Regions from separate parts of the Homo sapiens genome. Here region 2 is linked to region 1. The links come from fine-mapping of genetic effects on gene expression. Tissue or cell type: whole blood. Region 1 holds a variant in brackets; the other region holds the start of a gene. All regions are shown on one strand. Distances are between the middles of the regions.

Evidence for each region.
Region 2: it holds the start of SLC35B3, and the variant in region 1 is fine-mapped to the expression of SLC35B3 in whole blood (TOPMed, PIP above 0.99).

What each region holds. Positions count from the first base shown.
Region 1 is chr6:8,394,926-8,406,254 of GRCh38, forward strand. No RefSeq gene overlaps it. Among named protein-coding and RNA genes, the nearest start is that of SLC35B3, 35 kb to the right of the region's middle. RefSeq lists enhancers at 2,541-2,710, 9,514-9,683, 10,204-10,373 and a cis regulatory region at 9,599. The variant A/G (reference allele first, on the strand shown) is at 5,743.
Region 2 is chr6:8,430,188-8,441,516 of GRCh38, forward strand. It overlaps SLC35B3 (solute carrier family 35 member B3), which reads right to left and starts at 5,358. Exons shown (of 10, transcript NM_001370479.2): 1 at 5,156-5,358. LOC100506207 (a long non-coding RNA gene) reads left to right here and starts at 5,436. Exons shown (of 5, transcript NR_038980.1): 1 at 5,436-5,991; 2 at 7,753-7,844. RefSeq lists enhancers at 2,366-2,535, 4,986-5,125, 5,098-5,639, 5,136-5,195, 5,396-5,565 and 2 more.

The DNA.
Region 1 (11,329 bases):
GTAGCTGGGACTACAGGCGCCCGCCATCATGCCCGGCTAATTTTTGTATTTTTAGTAGAGACAGGGTTTCACCATGTTGCCTGGGCTGGTCTCGAACTCCTGACCTCAGGTGATCCACCTGCCTCGGCCTCCCAAAGTGCTGGGATTATAGGCATGAGCCACTGCATCCAGCCTAGAATCACTTTTAATATTCAATTTTTCTAGTTGTTTGCTGCTATATAAAGAAATACAATTCTTGCATATTGATCTTATATTGAGAGACTCTGCTAAATCCTCTTTTTAATTTTAATAGTGTATTTGTAGATTGCTTTAGATTTTGTGTGTACATAATTGTGTCATTTGTGAATATACTTTTTTTTCCTTGCAGTTGTTTTTTCTTCCTTGTTTTTTGGCTTTTTCTGTACAGGCTAGGACCTCCAGTACAATGTTGAATAAATGTACTAGTAACAGGAATACACACTTATTTCTGAAATCAAACCAAATACTTTCTATAACTTATCATTAAATATCATGCTTACAGTAGGTTTTTTTGTAGGTACTTACATATATGGAACTATTCAAATTTTGTGTTTTCCTATGTCAGTTTTGGTAGACTGTATTTTTGTAGAAATTAGTTGTTCTTATCTAAATTTTCAAATTTATTGGCATAAAATGCTTTAAGATATTCTTTTCTTCTTCCTAAATGTTCATAGAACATGCAGTAATATCCTTTTTTCATTTCAGGTATACTACACATTTTTATCTTCTTAATTTCATGATCAGACAACCCAGAAGTTTATTAATTTTAATTCTTAAAAAAAAAATCAACTTTTCTTTTTTTTTTTTTTTTTTGTTTGAGACAGAGTCTCGTTCTATCACCCAGGCTGGAGTGCAGTGGCACAATCACAGCTTATTTTAGTCTTGATCTCCTGGGCTCAAATGATGCTCCTGCCTCAGCATTCCATGGAGCTGGGACTACAGGCATACACCATTGTGCCCTGCTGATTTAAAAAAAAAAATTCTTATTTTTTCTAGACATGGGGTCTCATTATGCTGCCCAGGCTGGTCTCAAACTCCTGGTCTCAAGCAATCCTCCCACCTTGGCCTCTCAAAAGTATGAGGTCACAGGGGTGAGCCACTGGGCCTGGCCTTAATTTTTTTAATTGTATATTTTTATTTACTATTTAATTTCTGCTCTTATTACATACTTCTTTCTGCTTTCTTTGGGCTTCATTTGCTGAATATTTTCCTCACTTCTTAAAATAGATGCTTAAAACATAATAAATGTTTATAAAAAATAGGCTGTTCTTTTATGTGCATTTTTTGTTTGATCTTCAAAATCACCTTGTAAAGGTGTGCTAATTCCATTTTTCTGGATGAAGAAAATGAGAAGGTAACTAATTTGCTCCAGGTTAATTATGAAGCTGGAATTCAAATTAGGGCTGTTTGTACAGAAAGTCTATATTCTTTTTAAATATCTTGAATTCACATATGATTAGTATAAAATACATTTTTATCTTTTTCAAAAATTCTATTTTGTAATTAAAGAAAAAATTAGAATATGGTAAATATTTGTTTGCATTATAAAGAATCTAGGGTCAGTAAAGAAATCTAATTGTTATAAATCCATCTTTATGCTGATCATGTTTAAAAATTTTTTCATGTATCTCAAAAACGGCACTGACAACTTCCTCCCTTTTGACCTGTTTCTCCTTCTTTTGGCTCCTTGAGATCACGCTTTTCTCCTTCTCTGACTTCTCATTTTCAGCCCCTGTGCAGGTCCCTCTTGCTCTGTTCACCACTAAACATCAGTGTTCCTCAGGCTTTGTAAACACTCTCTTCACTTAAAAAAACAACATTGACAATCTTACTCATGCTCATTATTTTAACTCCCGAATCCAGATTCCCAGGCCTCTCAAACTACATATTATCATTGCTTTCTGAAATTGTTCATCTGGAGGTTCCAAAGTAAGACTTTAAACTCAGTCATGTCCAAACTATGCTTCAACTTGCTCTCCCCAACAGCAAATACACTCTTTCTCCTGAATTGTGTATCTCAGCAAGTAACATTCATCCAGTTTTCCAAGTCAGAACTGCAAAAGTCATTCTAAGATGCTTCCTCTCCCTCATCCCCTCCCTATCAATTACCCTCTAGATATCCCTATTATTGGTTCCATCCTCACCAGCTCCAATGCCTGAGTGTGTATTTAGATCCTCACGATGTCTTACCTGGACTTGCTTAAATGCTACCTCTTAGAAAAAGTCTTTCAGAATAGTCCTATTACACTTCATATACATTCACATTATAGAAATTAACGCACCATAACTCTATGCCTGCTTCTCACTAAACTTTGAGATAATTAAGTGAAGGAGTTGTGAGGCAGATATATAATCTATCTCATAAACATAGATATGTATTTACATATCTCTGAAGAGACTTGCAAATTGCTCAATACATATTTGGTCAATGGCTGTCACAGGAAAAAAAATGGAAAGGAAAGCTTATGATTTTCTCAGTGGTTGCTACAATAGTGGATAATTCATACTTTTCAAAATTAAGTGGAGAGGTCAAGTGGGTCCATGGAGTGTTACTATTAACCCTTCTGAAAGAGTTAGTTTAGATGGAACTATTGAGTGGACTTGTGTTCACTCACATAGAAATAGAGCTGGACCCTTTATGATAGTGCTCTGCCATCCAGGAAATGTCTGTTCATAAGGTCATAATAAAGCCTTCTGCTATTATAGCCACATCATTTGAACAGTCTTGTCTATTCATAAGCAAAGTTGTATGCTTAGAAAGGCTTAGGATCATGGAATTTGAATTTTGAATATTATAATTTCAAATTACATATCACTTATTAACAAAACTATCATAAAGAAGAAAACTCAATTCTATCAAGAAGGTATTTTTAATCACCCCATTTTCAGTGTGGTGAGTGAAGCACAGTAAAATCAAGCAATTTATGCTAACTGTTATCATATTACTGACAGTAATTCAGAAGTATTTCTTCCTAATTCTAGAGTCTCCTCTTTCTTATTGTGGTGACATTTCCAGCTAACACAGGAGAGGCACATAAAATCCTTAAGTACAACTTCTGATCTGGCACTTAGATCCCATATTTTAAAAATTTCCAGTGTTAATTATTTTTAATCCCTGCTCCAGCTTTAAGTTTATAGGTGTTCCTCGAATTATGACAGGTTACATCCTTATAAACCCATCATAAGTTGAAAATATCCTAATTTGAAAATGCACTTACTGCAACTGACCTACGGAACATCATAGCTTAGCCCAGCCTGCCATAAACGTGCTTAGATACTTGCATTAGTCTACAGTTGGGCAAAGTCATATAGCACAAAGTCTATTTTATAATAAGGTGTTAAATAGTCAGTGTAATTTATTGAATACTGTACTGAAAGTGAAAATAGAATGGTTGTATGGGTACTCGAAGTGCAGTTTCTACAGAATGTATGTTGCTTTCACACATTCTTGATCATTAAGCCAAGAAATCAAAAGTTGAACCACAGTGAATTGGGGACCATCTGTAGTCCCAACTGGATCTCTTGCTAAGAGAGACAAAATGACCTAGGAGTTCACAGCTAAGCAAGCCAGATTCCCTTTGCTTCTTCTCTGACTTTGACGCCTACACTCTATTTTTTTTCCCCAAGATTAAGCTTCTGTCTTGCCTTGTACTTCCAGTGATGTCCTCTCTGTCTTGACTACATTTGCCTTGGCTGCTTTACAAAGTATCTCACTTTAATTCAACGTAAAATCCTGACTGGTCCTTGGATTCTATCCCTTACTCCCAGTTGCCCCGTTTCAACACCTCTCTTTATGGTTGAGTCCCATTACCTGCTGGTAGATGACTTGAAGTGTCTACCTATATAGGCCATCTCACTCAAGCACAGGTCGATTTGGCTGACTGGGGATGTCAGGCAGGAAATCCCTTCTTCTTTCACCTCTGTGCATTCTCTTAAAGCCTGGTTCAAGATGCTAATCTTCTTAGGTGGGTTAGTAAGTATGACAGCAGGAGTGTCCACAAAAGTCCTTCCTTGGAAAAAGTCTTGCTCCCTTTACATGGTCCTGAGAAGGAAGGCAGTGTCAGGATTTTGAGAGGACACAAACAGCTGGAGAGGATGCCAGTCCTAACCTGGTGCTGTTGTGGCTGGAAAGAGCAGGAGTTGAGGAGTGGTGGGTTATCAGCTAGGCATCAGAGTCAAAGAAACCGATTTAGGTGCATTATGCCATTTACTATGTGTGAACCTTGGGTACATCACTTGTCTTCTTGAGGTCTGTTTCCATGTCTTCAAAATACAAACTACTGCTTCCCTGCCTGTTTCAAATCACTTTGTACAAATGATATGCATTAGACAATAGCAAAATTAGGAAATTTTACAAAGTATACTAATTGGTACCATCTCAAATAATCAAAGCTTTATGGTGAAGTTTTCCTATCACAAACAATTATGCCTATGTATTAAAAACAATCTTACCTAATTAGCCATAATATGAGACATATTTTAGGACTGAATTCTGTTTTATATTTCTGTTAGTCTTCTCCTAGAAGATTTGAAATCTATATTTAAGTTAGTAAAATATTTCAAAATTACATTTAAATTAGTAATTAGATTTGTAATAAAACATTACAAATCTTACTTCCAAAATTTGAATTTTACCAATTAAAACTGGTAAATGAACCAATATTTCTGAAATAGATTGCATCAAGATAGCGGCCAGCAAGTTTTCATTTGTATTAGAAAGGCAAATCTGAGAATCATTAGTAGTATAAATCACTAAGACAAAGAGTTGGGAGAAATTCTCTTTTAATGAGTTTTGGCTCCTGTCAAGATGGTGAGCTAGGATAGGCTGCTGGTTTCTTCCAAAAACAATCCTAGAGGAACTAGGAGATGGGGGAGGGTGGCGTGGTAGGGAGAAAGGATAGGAGAGAGGGTGAGAGACAGTGAGAGAGAGAGAGAGAGAGAGGAAGACAGACATACTGATTCAGACAGACAGATGTGAATTCTAGGAAAAAACAAAACAATACCAAAAGTGAGATGTTCTGGGGAGACTGAGGCTGTTTTAATCTTGGAGTTATAGACTAGAAACACAGAAGGCAGCAAGGTGCAGAAGGCAGTGAGAAGGCTTGGAGAGAAACTGCCAATGGCTATGCTAAAGTGTGTAATTACTGTTAAAAAAAAAAAAGACAACTGAAAAATATCTACCATTGAAAACAGAATGATTAGAAGAGAGTCCAAGAATTTAAAATAACCATGATAAAAAATAACACAATTAGGAACAATACTGGTAGCATAAAGCAAAACCAATAAATCGTTTTAAAAATCCAGGTAGAAATATTAGGTCTGAATACATAAGGGTTGAAATATAAAAAACACGACCATGACAAAGGAGATAAACAGCAGGTTGAACAGATGAACAAATTAGTACACTGAAAGCCCAGACTGAGAAACTCTCTCAGAAGCAGCAAGAAACAGCAGAGATGGAAACCATAAGAGAATAGCTTAGGGATATGTAGATGAAAGTAGAACTGCCAACATGTATAGGAGTCCCAGAGGTGGAGGAGAAAAAATAATCAAACTATTAGATATTCCTAGAAACTGTGTTAACAGATAACCCCTTAGAATTATGAAAAAAAAAATCACTACCCACGCTTCAGTTTTATGAGAATGGCAAACTGCTAAGAAATAACTGAACAAATAAAGTGTATGTTAGTAAGATTAGCTTGCAGAATTTACCAAATAGCTAGG[A/G]CATTTAAAACAATAAATCTCTTAATTCAGTGTGGGACTATCAGCCTGTGAATCTACACTCTTACTGGTGCCCTAGCCATGGACCTAGTTAGGCCTAATCAATCACCTATGTAAACAGTGCAGCCGCACACCTGGTTCTATGCTTCTCCTGAATCCAGCATAACTCCAGTTGTTTAGAGATGGACATCTCTATGACTCAAACTGGCTATGGATGATTCAAACTAGCTATGGTTCATACACATCTTACAGTAAATTCCCCCAGCCTCACCCTGTTAGATCAAACCTTCTTAAGAGCAGACATTTCAAATGTCTTCTTTGATTTAAAGAAAGGTGGCCAAGCATCCAAACAGTCCTGAGATTTTATGATTCTGTGGTGCTTAACACAGATATTGTAGACCAACATCATCAATTAAAATATAGTTAGAAACTAGAGAAAAAGATGATTACCTGTGTTTATGAAATGTCTCTGGTTTATATACAAAAATTATTCTAAACAATTACAATTGAGGTCTATCTATCATTGAATTTTGGAATGTATGAAAAAAATCAATTCCTAAGTGCCCCAACCAATTCCTAAGTGCTTATACACTGTTGAGTCAGAAATGAAACACAATAAACATTTTAATTGATCTGCTTTTTATTTCTGTCACTGTAACTGGTACTAGGAGAAAAATAATTGGGGAAGAGCCCTATAATGAGATCTAGAATAATCAGACTCCAAAGTCTTATTGCTATTATTTTCTATAGTGAAAAATTATCCACATTTCTTTACTTATCTATTTAAATCTTATCAATTGTGTAAAAACTGATTAAAATGGTCTAATTATGTTTTAGAAATGTGGGGGGTTATCATAGGATTAAGATATTTAATAAAACACATTTTTGTGATTAGACTCAGAAGAATCCCTTAAGTGTTAAGACCTACTTCCCTAAACCCCTGTAATTCACAGTTCATTCTGAAACAGCAGTAAATCATTGATGTGAACATTTTCTTCATAATGTCACTACAAAATAGCATAAAAACTATCTTAACTACATGCCATGAAATTAAAACAACAGACCATGACTGGAAGAGAATTACAGGTTTATCTTACTTTCATGAAGATTTTTAAAAAGGTAACATTTATAGAGAAAGTCATGAATATTAAATCTTTCAAACACCTACAATGATTAAAAAACTCTTTCTGCTTATGCCAGCAACTCTCCAACATAAGATTGCTGTTCAGTTTGCTAGGGCAGGCCACCGAGAATGTGAAGTTTGAAAAGCAAATGGAACAAACTTGGGTGAAAATTATTCTGATAATTTCAGATGTCCTGATATTGAAAACTTCTGAAAGTTTGTATGCTACACCCTAGACACTCCAGGTATGGTCCATGGACCAGCAACATTAGCATCACTTGGAAGTATGTTAGAACAAAATCTCATGCCCCACCCAACCCTATTGAATTCAAATCCTTTGTTTTTTCTTTTTAAAAAACTAGATCCTTAGGTGGTACATGTGCACACTGAGGTTTTAGAAGTACTACCACCATGGCGAAATATTCTGAAAACTTAGGGTTAATGTGATGTGTTTTTATATAACAATCATAGCAAATCTTCCATAGATTGGAAGTTTTTCAAGAGTACGGGTTATAGTTTATTCTTTTTGCATCCTCAGCATCTAGTATAATGCCTGGCTCATATTTGGCCCAGTGAAGATGAATGAATAAATGACATTATAGTAAAAATAGAGCAGTCATATCAGTGAGGCTACATTAGCTGTTTACAAATGTTAAGACAGCTGGTTCAATGGGCAAGTATAGGGACAGTCAATAGGGACAATAAAGCAGAATAAGTGAAAATGTAAAATATTTTTGCTCAAACACATAATACAGAAAACTTATCAAGTGTTTAATCAGGAAGAAAACACACAGCAAAGGTTTTGAGTGTCACAATGTATAACCTGATGATTTGATAACCATGTAATTAGTTTTAGAGTTGGGGCTGGCCATGCTGGAAAGACTAATGATGTGACCGTAGGCTTGGGACTTTGAGCCATGAGGTTTGGGACTTTGAGCCATGAGGTTTGGGACTTTGAGCCATGCAATACCAACCCAACCTCTGGGGAAGGAAGGACAGCTGAAGATAAAGTTCAGTCACATGGCCACTGATTTAATCAATCCTATGGGCTGTATAGTGAAACTCCAATAAAAACCATATACCAAGACTTGGGAGAGCTTCCCTGGCTTGAACACATGGATGTACCAGGAGGGTGATGCATCATAAGGACATGGAAACTAGTGTTTGCAACTATGTATATAAGAGTAAATGTGATTTTGTAATGCATACATATTTGCAGTGTGCTAAGCCACATTACTGGCCCATTACTGGTCAAGTTTTACTAAAATTTTAGGCTTACTGATCAAATAAGAATCTAGAATGTAAAGTGGGTTCAAAATCTAGAATATAAAGTAGGTTTAAGGTAAAAAACACTTGGGAAAACTAAAAGCATTTGATAACAGTTCAGACAATGCTAATAGTTCTTTAATGATAGCTAACAAGCATAATGCCTGCAGTACAATTCTGATCCTAACTACCCAGAGTTAGGTCAAATGTCACATGTATTACTCAGGGCTCTCAGAGGGACAGAACTAATAGGATATATATATATATATATATATATATATATATATATATATATATATATATAAAATATATATGTATATTATATATATGAGTATATTATATATATTTATGTATAATATATATTTATATATTATATATATATGAAAAGGGGAGTTTATTAAGTATTAACTTACATGATCACAAGGTCCCACAAAAGGCTGTCTGCAGGCTGAGGAGCAAAGAGAGACAGTCCAAGTTCCAAAAGTGAAGAACTTGGAGTCTGATGTTCCAGGGCAGGAGAGCATGGGAGAAAGATGTAGGCTGGGAGGCTAGGTCAGTCTCGCGTTTTTCTGGGAGGCTAGGGCAGTCCTGCACATTTTTCTCCCTGTTTTATATTTGCTGGCAGCTGATTAGATGGTACCCACTAGATTGAGGGTGGGTCTTCCTTCCCCAGCCCACTGACTCAAATGTTAATCTCCTTTGGCAGCACCTTCACAGACACACACAGGATCAATACTTTGCATCATTCAATCCAATCAAGTTGACACTCAGTATTAACCATCACAAGTCTACCCCTTGTCAACTTGAACCCATACACATCTCCTGAGATCATACATAATCTTCAAATAAAGACAATAATGTCATAATTATGCCTAACATAATACAACTATCCTTCATACAACTGGAAATGCACCAATCCCCAACCCAAATACTATTGCATAAAGTTAACAATACTTAAATGCTGATATGAAGTCAATAATCTTACATCACATGATAAAGGAAAAGGAAATAAAATGAAGATATTTTCTTAGTACAAGTGTATACATGCATAAACATGTTTTTAACAAAAGGAGGAGGAAATATTCATGACAGTTACAGTCCTCGTTTCTGTAGCTGGTCATGTGGTCGTAGCTGGTATTGGTGACTACCTTCTACTACCCATTCTGTATTCCTTTTGCCTTCAGCAAGCACCTCAGCAGATTGTGGCTTTTCTCCTGGTGAAGTCACCCAAATCTTCATTCCCGAGGGGTCTGGACCATTTGTAGTCCTGCCTGGCTTGGGCTGTTGTAGTTTCCCATTGACTTTAATCACAGGGGATGGTAATACTAAGAGGCACCGATCTCCTGTATTCCATGCATACTCTTCCTTACCTCTCTTATGGAGTAATAGACTGATTTCATCTTGATAGTCCGGGTCAATCACCCCAGCCAACACTGTAAGTCCCTTCTTAGCCTATTGACTTAAAGGTAGAAGGAGCCCAAAGTGTCCAGGTGGCAATCTTAACTTCCAGTTTAATGGATCGTTGTTGTGTCTCCTGGTGGCAGCATTCCTCCCTCTGGTACTAAGAACTTTAGGCCAGCAGAACGTAATGTCGCCGGAACAGGAAGCAAAAATTTTGCTAGTGGATCACTAGGGGTGATGGTGAGTGGTGCCACTTCCACTTCCATCCCTTGATTCCTGGACCCATGAATCCTGGCTATGGGAGAAACAGTACCATATATTGGATACTGATTCAGAGCATACACAGACTTCTGGAGAACTTTGCCCCAGACCTGCAAAGTATTGTCACCTAGTTAGTGTTGTAATTGTGACTTCAAAAGGTCATTCCACCTTCTATCAATCCATCTGCTTCAGGAAGATGGGCAACATGGTAAGACCAGTGAATTCCATGAGCATGAGCCCACTGCCACACTCCTTTAGCTGTAAAGTGAGTGCCTTGGTCAGAGGCAGTGATGGGTGGAATACCATGACAGTGGAAAGGCATTCCATGAGTCCACGGATGGTAGTCTTGGCAGAAGCATTACGTGAAGGATAGGCAAACCCATATCCAGAGTAAATGTCTATTCCAGTGAGGACAAACCTGTGCCCTTTCCATGATGGAAGGGGTCAATATAATCAACCTGCCACCAGGTAGCTGGCTGATCACTCTGAGAAATGGTGTCATATCTAGGGTTCAGTGTTGGTCTCTGCTGCTGGCAAATTTGGGACTCAGCAGTGGCCATAGAAAGGTCAGCCTTGGTGAGTGGAAGTCCATGTTGCTGAGCCCCTGAGTAACCTCCATCCCTGTCACCGTGGCCACTTTGTTCATGATGACAGGGGAGGCTGGGGAAAGAGGCTGAGTGGTGTCCACAGAACGGGTCATCCTATCCACTTGATTATTAAATTCCTCCTCCACTGAGGTCACCTGTTGGTGAGAACTCACATAGGATACAAATATCTTCACAGTTTTTGACCATTCAGAGAAGTCCCTCCACATACTTCTTCCCCAAATTTCTTTGTCACCAATTTTCCAATCATGCTTCTTCCAAGTCCCTGACCATCCAGCCAAACGGTTGGCTACAGCCCATGAATCAGTATATAATCCTACATCTGGCCATTTTTCCTTCCATGCAAAGTGCACAACCAGGTGCATTGCTAGAAGTTCTGCCCACTGGGAAGATTTTTCCTTCACCACTGTCCTTCAGGGACGTCCTAGAAAGGGGCTGTAGTGCTGCCGCTGTTCACTTTTGGGTGGTGCCTGCATATTCTGCAGAACCATCTGTGAACCAGACCCTAGTCTTTTCTTCCTCTGTCAACTGATCATAGGAAACTCCCCATGAGGCCATCGATGCAGGCTGGAGGAGGGAAGGCAGGGTGGCAGGAGTGGAGACCATGGGCATTTGAGCCACTTCCTCGTGCCTTCAGGACCTGCTCAAATCCAATCACATATATACCACTTCAATTTGATGATGGAATACTGCTGTACACGACCTGCTCTATGGCTAGATGGGTCAGAAAGCACCCAGTTCTTGATAGGCAGTTCAGGTCGCATGGTGACTTGATGACTCATAGTCAAACATTCAGTTTCCACCAAAGCCCTGTAACAGGCCAAGAGCTGTCTCTCAAAAGGAGAGTAGTCATCTGCAGAAGATGGCAGGGCCTTGTTCCTAGAGGCCTCTGCTGTGATTCACCCATGGGAGCCTGCCAAAGGCTCCAAACAGC
Region 2 (11,329 bases), 35 kb after region 1:
TACATGATAAAGTTTAATCCTCCAAATAATATTCCAAATCATACTTTAAAGTTATACAAATGTCTGCTTCTCTCTGGATATTAGTATATTAATTCCTGTATTCTAGGTTCCAAATCACCAAAAACAATATGCCTACAATCTTTAAACAATTTGTCTACAGCTGATAAAGATTAGTACATCATTAAACTGAATATAAACCATACTTATTTCCACAGCAACAAAAGCTAGTTATTTCATCAAAGAACTAAACATGTCTTTGTGTCTATATATAGTTGATGCATAACATTCTCAACATTAAAGTCAATCTTCACTTGTAGAGGAGTAAAAAATAAGTAATTCTCCTTTAAATACTAAGACAATTCTAAGATATATTTGCTAATGACATTTAAAAAATAAACTAAAAAAATGAAGGCCAGGTGTGGTGGCTCATGCCTGTAATCCCAACATTTTGGGAGGCTGAAGCAGAGAGGTTGCTTGAGACCAGGAGTTCAAGACCAGCCTGGGCAACATAGCAAGACCCTCTCTCTACCAAATAAAATAAAATAAAATAAAATAAAAAAATTAGCTGGACATGGTGGTGCATGCCTGTAGTCCTAGCTACTTGGGAGGCTGAGGCAGGATGATCACTTGAGTCCAGGAGTTTGAGGCTGCAGTAATCTATGATTGCACCCCTGCACTCCAGCCTGGGCGACAGAGCCAGACCCTGTCTCTAGAAAATAAATGAAAAAAACAAAACAAAGAAACCCCAAACCTAAGGTCCTTAAAAAGCTAGATTTATCAGAGACTACAGAAAGCACAATATGCTTCAGCAGTAGCATCTCTTAGGTTAAAAAATGTTTTCTTCCTCTGGAACAAATCATTTTAATTTACATTCTTCTGGGATGTAAAAGGCTGGAGAAAACATGTCATTTTTTGTCAGTCTAAAAAAAATTATGAAGCCATCAATTTCTCTTTGGATTTATATAAACTGAAAAAATGAACTCCATGTAAAGACTGAGGAAAGACTGAAGAATTATGACAAAGTATAGAATAAACCTATGTAAAAGAAAAAGTTATTTTCTTAGAAACGACTCATCTGTTTTTAATTCCAGTGGGAACAAAAATTTAAACTCTGCGGCACGAAGAGAAATAAGAATAATTTTGACAGTGAGTTTTCCTTTGGTAATGTTTTTTTAAACTGTTACAAGATGGCTTAAAATGGCCAAAATTAGAGTCGCCTCTTCATGATCACTTCTAGTTTGCTAATTTACAGAGGTTAACCAGGTCATCCTTAGGAATTAAAGGAGGGGTCAAGGATCTGAATACCACTTGTAACTAAAAATATGCAGCCACCACAACATTTTATAGGGCACCTGCCTTATTTCTAAATAGAAAAGTTGTTTCATGAAGTTTACTGTGTTCCTCTTGTTTATTCTTCACTTTCCTTTGTTCTTGCTTCCCACATTATGTTTCAATCACTGTCATTTGTAAGACTTTTTATGTAATCTTGCAGGGTATCTTTGAGATGTGACTTTCTTTTAAAACCATGCTTTAAATTATCTCTCCTAAATATTTGGTCAAACCTGTGCTTGAATGTAGAAGAGACGAAAACCTTAACAATTTACTCTTTTCTATGTGTGAGCATGGATATAGTGCACCATTCAAATAAACCCGGCCTTACATAGGTTTCTAAGTTTGCTCTCCCTCCACTCTCAATAAAGCCCTAAACCACCCATGTTTCATTCCTGAAATACACCAGGGACTTTAAAACACCGCTGCCTTCTGTTCATGATGTCCTTTCAGCCTGAGGTCTTCTTTCTCAAGGTCAGGTTTGGAAGTTCAGCTTTAATATCCCCTCCTTTGTGACACCATCACTAATCCCCCCAGTTATTAGAAAAGAGAACTTGAAAGGCAAGATTCAAATCTTATTTGTCTCTGTGTCCTTGGTACCTGGCATATACTCTGACCTGATATTCAGATGAACCAAATAAACTGATCCTTCCTCTTGATACCCTCAAACTTCAGCTTGCAATCACTCACCTTCTGCTTGGATACGATTTTTGAAATGGATGGTGGTACTGGCAAACTTTATGAGCAAAACTGAAAATCTTATAGAAAAAGAGTGGGGAAAATTTACAAATAATGCTTACATATTTACACATACATACAGAATAAATAAAACTTCTAGAAAATATCTTTCTTTCCTGCTTTTATTGGCATCAAAACATTTCTCCAGAAGGTCACGCTTTCCCAAAGTCACCTTCTTCTGAGATGTTTGTAATTTAGTAAACTGCCAAGCATATTGTAATGACTCAATACAATTATAGGTAATAGTATAAGAAAGCAGTATAGCATAATGCTTTCCCCATGCTTTGGAATTTTGACAGATATGAGTTCAAGATCTGGCTTTACTACTTATTAGCTGAGGAGCCTTGGGCAAATCGTTTAACTTTTCTGAGCTTTAGGTTCTGCACCTTCAAAAGTGGGAGGAGTTAAAAATGTGCCTATCACAGGATTTTGGTTAGGACTATATGAAATAAATGTAAAATTGCCTGGCATATGACAGTCCATAAGTGTGTTAGCTGTCATCCTTCAACTTTTTAGAAATATTGCTAGGGTGATATGGTGTGCTCAAGCTGACTCACCCCTTTGATGTGCAGCTGGAAATACAGACCTGAATTTCCAACGCTGCCTTCTCTCCTGAGATCCAGAGCTCTACGTCTAAATGCTTCTTTGATACCTCTACTCATAAGCTCTGCTGGCACTTCATATTTAAAATGGCCAAAGCTGATTATTTTCCCCTCAAAACAAATCTACTGTTTGTTCCTATATTCCCAATCTCACTTAACAGTACCTAGTATGAAACACAAGCTAAAAATCTGGGAGTCATCTTAAGAATCTTTCCTTTTCCTCACATTCTATATTTTGCCAAGATTCCTGTTAACTCTACCTCTATAACTATATCTAATATCTGTTTCGGACCCTACTCCATCAGGCAGCCATTTTCTCTTGCCTAGATTACGAGACTGTTTATAATCAATTCTTCCCTTTCTGACCCATCTGTCACATGGCTCAACGTGAAGTCTGATCATGCTGCATCCATGAATAAGGCCTCGAAGTTAAAAACGAGTTGATGTCCTGGACTCAATCATATTATACATATTTTTCAAATTCCTAAATGATAATGGTATAGCTTTTTCGTTTTTATACTTGTTTCTCCTAAAAGCCTATGAAATCCTTAAGGCAAGAGATATCTTCCTATGATGTTCTGGCACATAACAAAAATGTAAGATTAAATGAAGGACTCTACCACAGTTTAGCAAGCACCATTTATTTAATCAACGTTATTCAGCTCCTTTCCAACACTTTACCACTTCTAATACACTTCTTGGCAACTTTATGTGCTGCAGATCTAGGCCATATGTGCAGAATGAAATCTCTCTAGCACTGTCTTTTCTACATGTATGCCAAAATACCGACATTGCTACTGAAACTCCCCACAAAACATTTGAAATGAACATGAAAATAAATTTGTTTCCTCTGCCTGAGGCATCAGTCTCATAAAACTTGCCCACCAAAGCCTTGCATTTAGAATGCTGTTTTATTAATAAGAACATCACTGGTGAGAAAGTGTGACTGATAAAGACCTCTGATACCTAATAACTGTGATCATTGGGGAATGTCTGCCATATCCCTTCCACTTCAAACATTAATGACTGATACTAACCATCATCTAAAAAAAAAAATGGGCCAAACTCCTTGTGATGCAAGGAGCAAAAATGAAGCATGGAATTAAAATTAGTTTTCAGACTAAATGATCAACATTGTGCTTTGCTTTTGAAGCTCACAGTAATCAGTGAAACTAAAATATATATATATATATTTTAAAAATCACAGGTGTGTATAATTGCCTGAGGCCTCTTCCTAAATTCAACACAGATATTCAACTTCAACTGCTAAAATGGAATAAAAAGGTAGCATTTCCGGCATACAATGTATATTTAAAAATTAAAATTAGTGATAATGTTGAGTTACAATGACCTATTGAAGTCACAATTATTTCAGTTTATTTTTGAGTTTTCCGACCTGAAGGACAAAAGTCCCACACCAAAAAAAGGTAGAATATGAAAAAAAAGTCATTACGGTGTCATTAACCTGAAAAAACGTGATTTTAACTATACTTTGCCACACTCAACGTTACAAATAAAAGAATCTTACCATGCCATTATGCCTTGATTAACTGCGCTCCGGAATCAATCATGGCCTATGGTGTACGATTATAAAACAGAAAAAACAAAGTTCCATCTCATTTCTTTGTACACACATCATTACACAAAGGTGGAGAAACCCTGTGCTAATGTTTGAAGACTATTCTTTTTTTTTTCCAAGAGAAAAAGTTAACACTAGGACTTTATATATTAAGTAATTAAGTAAAAATAACGCTGTCTAAATTATTTTGAAATGCTGCCTCTCTTCCAAGTTCCAAACTATCTCAATTCACTTAGAAAAACGTTTAATCAAAAAACAATTCTAGGCTTCTGATATCCTAATGTAGAAAAAATGCAGATACTCAACACTTAAGATTTTGTTAGCGCACCAAATCATTCCATCTTTTACTTTCAATATTCCTTAAATAATAAAAAGACGGGAGAGATAATTCAGTTGCAAAGACTGGAGGAAACTTGCAGAACTTCTAGTGGAAGTTTATGCCATAAACTTAATAGCCCAGCCAGAACAATCACATTCTACTGCAAGCCAAATGGAGAAAAGAGTACCTTGGAGTGCCCCTATTTAATAAACACGGAACGAGGAAACAGTTAACTGTAAATACAGTCTAGAGGTATCCAGGTGACTGACAGTTCTCCAGAGACCCCGAGAACAGCGTAAAAGACCCCTTGAGGTCACCTCACCCCTGCGAGTCCACGGATTGGGACCTGAGGGAGTTCTCGCCAGCCCGAGGGCGAAAAACGGGCGAGGAGGAACAGATGCTCCTCCCTGGAAACCGCCCGGCCGGTTTCCGCTCTTTCAAAAAAGGGAATCACCCGTTTCTTCCATCCCGACCTCATCCATTCCTCGAACGCTCCTTCTGGATGAGGAAGATGGGCAGTGTCAAGGTTTTCTGGAGGAGAGGAGATCTGGGTCCCAAACACAGGAAAGGCCCCGAAGGCACGCGTACCCCAAGGCCGGTATGTCACCCGGAAGGGTGACGGCAGCCTGCGTGGCGTCTGAGCTAGACGGAGCATCTCCCCCTCCCCTGGTCCGTCGCCATCACCTCCTCTTCCTCCTCCTCCTCGCCCACTCCTGCACTTTCCACCGCGGCGGTCGCCTCCCCGGAAAGCACTCTCAACTCCGGCGCCCGCAGGCCACTTCCGCCTATGTGTCCCTGCGCGCGTGCGCAGACGCGTGGCCCCGCCTCCCGACAGGCCTGTGTGGCCGGTGGCGGGCGGGCCGTTACCTCCCGCGCATGCTCTATGGGGTAGAGACGCTAGGCCGGCACTGCCTAGGTGGGCCGGGCGGTGCGAGGGTCGCCTTTCAGCCTTTACCTCTACCCACTGAAATGGAGTAGGTCGGTGAGCGCCGATCTGCTGGAGAATCTCATTATCCCATCGGCGCTCTGCCTGCTCCTGGCCTCCAAGCCTCTGAAGCCCCTCGGGTTTCAGCTGCCGGCTACCCTCGAGCCCGTGGTGCCCACGAGAGAGGCGACTTTACGTCAGCGGCCCTGGGCTGAGATTTGAGAACGCGACCAAGTGGAGAATGTTGGAGCCAGATTTTAAAATCCTTGTCTTCCTTCTGCGTGCTACTTGATCTAAATGAGATACGGCAAAGTCACAGAACCTGTTTTTATGTTTTTGCCTGATTCATACGGGCTTCTCCGGTGAAGATGGGCCTGAAGTAACGCTTGGGTTGCTTCTGACGTTATAACTCATCCTGTAGCTGCAGCAACCGTGGTCCTTGCAACCTCATAAAAATGTTGCCAGCATTGTTTCGATAGTGCTGCTTAATTCTTGGAAGGTAAATCTCAAAGCTTGAGGACCAGCCATCAAAACTTTTGTAAAAGGTTTTCCCCGCGTTTAGGGCCTCATCCATCACCACTGAGATGTAATAACGTAAAAACCAAGACGGTTTGGGGATGAGCTGTTTTCAGAGAATAATTAAGGAAAATATTACTGTAACGAAGATGGACAATTTTTGAAAGCATGCCTTGAATACCAGAAAGGGATGAATTGGATTAATATGTATGTTAGAATCCAGTCAGTTATGGACAACTTTTAAAATTTTACAGGCACTCTTCAGAAAGGGTAGCATTTGTGTCTTGTATTGGGATCGAGGGTTTGTAAGAAAGCAAGGCACCTACTTTGGTGGTGAGAAAAAAAGGTCTGGGTAGACATTTTCGTTTAATACTTGCCAACGTTGTTAGGCTGGTGTTAGCAACACTTAGGAATGTTGGAATTAAGGCTTAGAGAACTTAAATTTCCTAAAGAGATAGTAAATGACAAAACCTTTCAGTGATGCCATATCGTCACTGTATAATGTGAATTTAGTACTACTGTTAGCCATTTATATGGTGGTTATTTATCAAGTATTTATTAAATGGGCATATGTATAGCTCATATCGTAAACTATGCGTATGAGCTCCCTGTCCTGAAGAAATTAGGGGTTTCCATGAGAAAGTAAATGGCAGTATAAAACAACTTAAGGTACAAGAGGTGTTACAAGGTACCATCTGCTCATGCCTGGACAATTGCAGTAGCCGTGAGCATAGCTTTCTGCATTCCCTTTATTTCTCTACATAGTTGCATTCAGCAGCTGGAGTGATCCCATTAGAACCTGAATATGCCACTCCTCTGTGCAGAACCTTTTAGCGGTTTACCATTTTACTCAGATTAAAGTTCAAAATTCTTACCCTGACTTTTAAGACTGAACTTATTCTTGATGGATCACATCCAAGCTACACTTCAGAGCTTTTCTAATTGCCCCCAAGCACAGCAAGCATCAGTGCTTTGTAGCTGTTGTTCCTTCTGCATGGAACACTGCCCTCTCAGATGTCCACAGAGCTTGCTTCCTCATTTTTTTCCAGTCACTGCTCAAATGTCACCTGGCTCTTCTCTGACTACCATGTCAGTGAAATATTTTTACATGTCAAATGTGAAATGTAGGAGAGACTATCTGGAGTAGTACTTATTATAGAGTAGGTGTTTAATAAATATCGACTCTCTTACAATACTTCCCATTTACTCCTGTGATAACCACGTGGTAAACAAAATTAAAGACTTGCAGCTATGAATTGTTTTTTATTGACTGATTGACTGATTGAGGCAGAGGCTCACTCTGTCGCTCAGGCTGGAGTGCAGTGGCACATCTCAGCTCACTGCAACCTCTGCCTCCTGGGTTCAAGCCATTCTCCTGTCTCAGCCTCCCGAGTAGCTGGGATTATAGGCGCCTGTCACCATGCCCGGCTAATTTTTGTATTTTTAGTAGAGATGGGGTTTCACCTTATTGACCAGGCTGGTCTCGAACTCCTGACCCCAAGTGATCCACCCACCTCAGCCTCCCAAAGTGCTAGGATTATAAGCGTGAGCCACTGCGCCTGGTCCTATGAATTGGTTTTAAATTTTTAAGAAATTAATAATTCTGTAGTATCAGAAACCTTTGGTGTCTTGATTCACATCTTCTGAGCATCACCTCTCATTTCTGACTTGGTTGTGGGGGGCAGTTTCATGCAATCTTACACATTCTTCTCCCTGACAGCTTCTCCTCTCCCACATTTACCAGGCCTCTTTGCTTTCTTCCCTGAGGTTCTTCGGACTTCACACATTCCAGCAGTAGCTCTCTCAGCTCCTGTCCTGCACAGCTTTGAAGTGCTGGTAAGTCAACACATCTGGGGCCCTTCAACCAAGGGGTGACAGTCACTGATGGATAAATGCTCTTGCTTCTTACACTTGAGCAAGATAGTTTTGTAGGCCATTCTGTGTGTTTTTCAAAAAGTCCCAGTGAAATTGGGTTCTGGTTTCTCACAACAGCAACTTCAATAACACATTCTTGTATTATGTCTATATTCTCCCTTCCATTCTCTCATTGTTTCTCACTAGGATCACATCCCAAATTACCTGTCCCCACATAAGTAGTTGTCTCAGGTTTTGAGGGAAACCAAGCTAAGAAATTTGATGTAAGAAGAAAGTCTAGAATGCAGCTCCTCAGAACTCTGGAAGTGGGTTACTTTGCAGTCAGATGACAACAAGGACTTTCTTAGTGATATTAAGGGGAGGACATGTGCATGGCCCAACAATTAAGGCTCTTTCTTACTAAAGCCGATATGACTACTGCCTCTTTGGATGTCCAGCCCATCAGCAGCAAAGATTGATGGTAAATTCCATAAGGAGAGCAATTACACAAAAGTCCTTCCTTCCTGGAGAGAGCCGTGGTTTGTACTTACGGAACTGACACTTCCCTTGATATGACTGGTCTTGTTCATGGTGCCTCTGCCAGTACCATTATATAACAGAGTTACAAACACATGATTGATTGACTTCCTTCCTTCCTTCCTTCCTTCCTTTCTTTCTTTCTTTTTTCTTTCTTTCTTTCTTTCTTTCTTTCTTTCTTTCTTTCTTTCTTTCTTTCCTTCTTTTTTTCTTTCTTTTTCTTTCTTCCTTCCTTCCTTTTTCTTTTTCTTTCTTTCTCTTTCTCTTCCTTCCTTCCTTTTTCTTTTTCTTTCTTTCTCTTCCTTCCTTTTTCTTTCTTTCTTTCTCTCTTTCCTTTCTCTCTCTCTTTTCCTTCTTTCTTTTCTTTTTTCTTCCTTCCTTTCTTTTTTCTTTCTTTCCCTTCCTTCCCTCCATCTCCTCCCTCCCTCCCTCCCTTCCTTCCTTCCTCTTTCTTTCTCTCTTTCCCTCCCTCCCTCCCTCCCTTCCTTCCTTCCTTTCTTCCTTCTTTGACACAGAGTCTCACTCTGTTGCCCAGGCTGGAATGCAGTGGCACAACCTCTGCCTCCCAGGTTCAAGCCATTCTCCTGCCTCAGCCTCCCCAGTAGCTGGGATTACAGGTGCCTGCCACTACACCTGGCTAATTTTTTTGTATTTTTGGTAGAGACACGGTTTCACCATGTTGGCCAGGCTGGTTGTGAACTCCTGACCTCAAGTGATCTGCCCACCTCAGCCTCCTAAAGTGGTGCAATTACAAGCGTGAGCCACCACACCCAGCCCAAACACATGATTTTCTGATGTATTGCCTCCAACTAAAGGACACACTTTATGGTAAAAGAGGTGTGACAATGACACACGACCATGGAATTCCACTGGTCCTACCATATATTGTATCAACTGGAGGAAATTGGCCTGATAGAACACTGACATTGTTTTGTGAACATCAGCAAGTATCCTTTTCAGGAACAGTGCTCAGATAGGGTTGAGATGCCGTCACTCCTGACACACACACACACACACACACACACACACACACACACACACACCTGGCCCTTGGGAAGTTTGGTGGCATTAACACCCCCAGGCAATGATCCACCAATGGGGAATGGGCACCTATGGATAAATGCCTTCCATTTCCTAGGAGCAATTTTTGGGAGGTGTTTTTATGTATTTTAGGATGTCCTAGATAATCAAGTCATGTGACTTGGGGGAGCGAGAAAGAGAAACCAGCAGTGGAGACTTAGAAGAAGCAGCTGTTGACATAGGATGGGTCCAGGAATGTACAGTCTTCTAAAAGCCAGGTGAAGACAATGTTTAAAGGAGGAAGGAGTGATCAACAATGTCAGTTCGTGTCAATTGGTGTTACTTAGTCATGTGTCTGTGAAGAATCATCTTGCATAGTTAAGTCTCAGGTTCTAGTGTCAGATTAAATTTAAATCCTTGCACCACCCCTTGCTCTTTGAGTGTCTTTGTGCAAATTGCTTAAATTCTCTAAGTCTCAATCTCCCCATCTGTGAAATGGGAATGACAGTAGTACCTATGTGGTAAATTGTAGTGATGAGTAAGTGAAAGATGTTTAAAGATGGTTAAATGGTTAGCACAACACCTATTACCTGACAAACACTTAGTAAAAGTTAGCTATTAATATTCTTATTAATATAGCCTACTATCATTAGAATAATCCATTTATATATAGTCATCAGTTGTCACTTTTCTAGCTCTTCCATAAGGAATAGGTTATATAGCATTTCCAAACTAGGAAGTTCATTGATAGATATATGGTTCCAGATGCACTGAGCAGAAAAACTAGTTAATTTGATTTTCATTAAATATCCATTTAATAAATACTTATTGAGCACTTACTCTGCATGCTACTGGGTATTGTGGATATGTGGATGACAAGACAGACATGGATCCCTGCCCTCACAAAGCTCACAGCCTTGTGTGGTGGAGATAATTAATTACACAAGTAATTATAGTGTGATTTGTGTTGATAAGGGTATTAACTACAGGATGCAATGGGAGCTATAGGCTATGCTAATGAGGCTGTGGTTATAGATTCAGTTCCCCTGTAGGTTGCTTGACTTCCAGGGCTATCAGTTTTTCTCTGCTGTCTCCTAAATGGATAGAGGTTCACAGAACTGGGCCACCTGGACACCAGCCATGACTCCTCTTCTTTCCCAGTACTGATAATTGGCATGGGGCAAAATTCTTCATAAAGAGGTAGCATGTGTAATGAGATGGAGAAATATTTTGCTCGTTTAACACCTGGCTTTTGAATCCCTTTTTGGTCAAAGTTTCTGTGTTTTGTTTTCTTTTTGTAAGAAGTAATTCGATTAGCCTCTTAGAAGATTATTCTTAAACTGCCTTCCATGGAGGGTTAGTCTTATTAACATGAAGTTCTTTTTATTTCCAGAACAGTGCTGTCCAATAGGAATATAATATAAGCCATGGAAGCTACTTTAAATTTTCTGCTAGTTACATTAAAAAGGTGAAATGAGGCCGGGTGTGGTGGCTCATGCCTCTAATCCCAGCACTTTGGGAGGCCAAGGCAGGCGAATCACTTGAGGTCAGGAGTTCAAGACCAGCCTGGCCAACATGGTGAAACCCCATCTCTACTAAAAATAAAAAAAAATTAACAGGGCGTGGTGGCGGGCACCTGTAATCCCAGCTGCTCAGGAGGCTGAGGCAGGAGAATGGCTTGAACCAGCGAGGCAGAGGTTCCAGTGAGCTGAGATCATGCCACTGCAGTCCAGCCTGGGCAACAGAGTGAGTCTCTGTCTCAAAAAAAAAAAAAAAAAAGGTGATATTAATTTTAATAATATATTTATTTAACTCAATATAACCAAAATATTATCATTTCAACATGCAATCAATATAAAAAGTTGTTAATGAAATACTTTAACATCTGTTTTTTTATACAAAATCTTGGA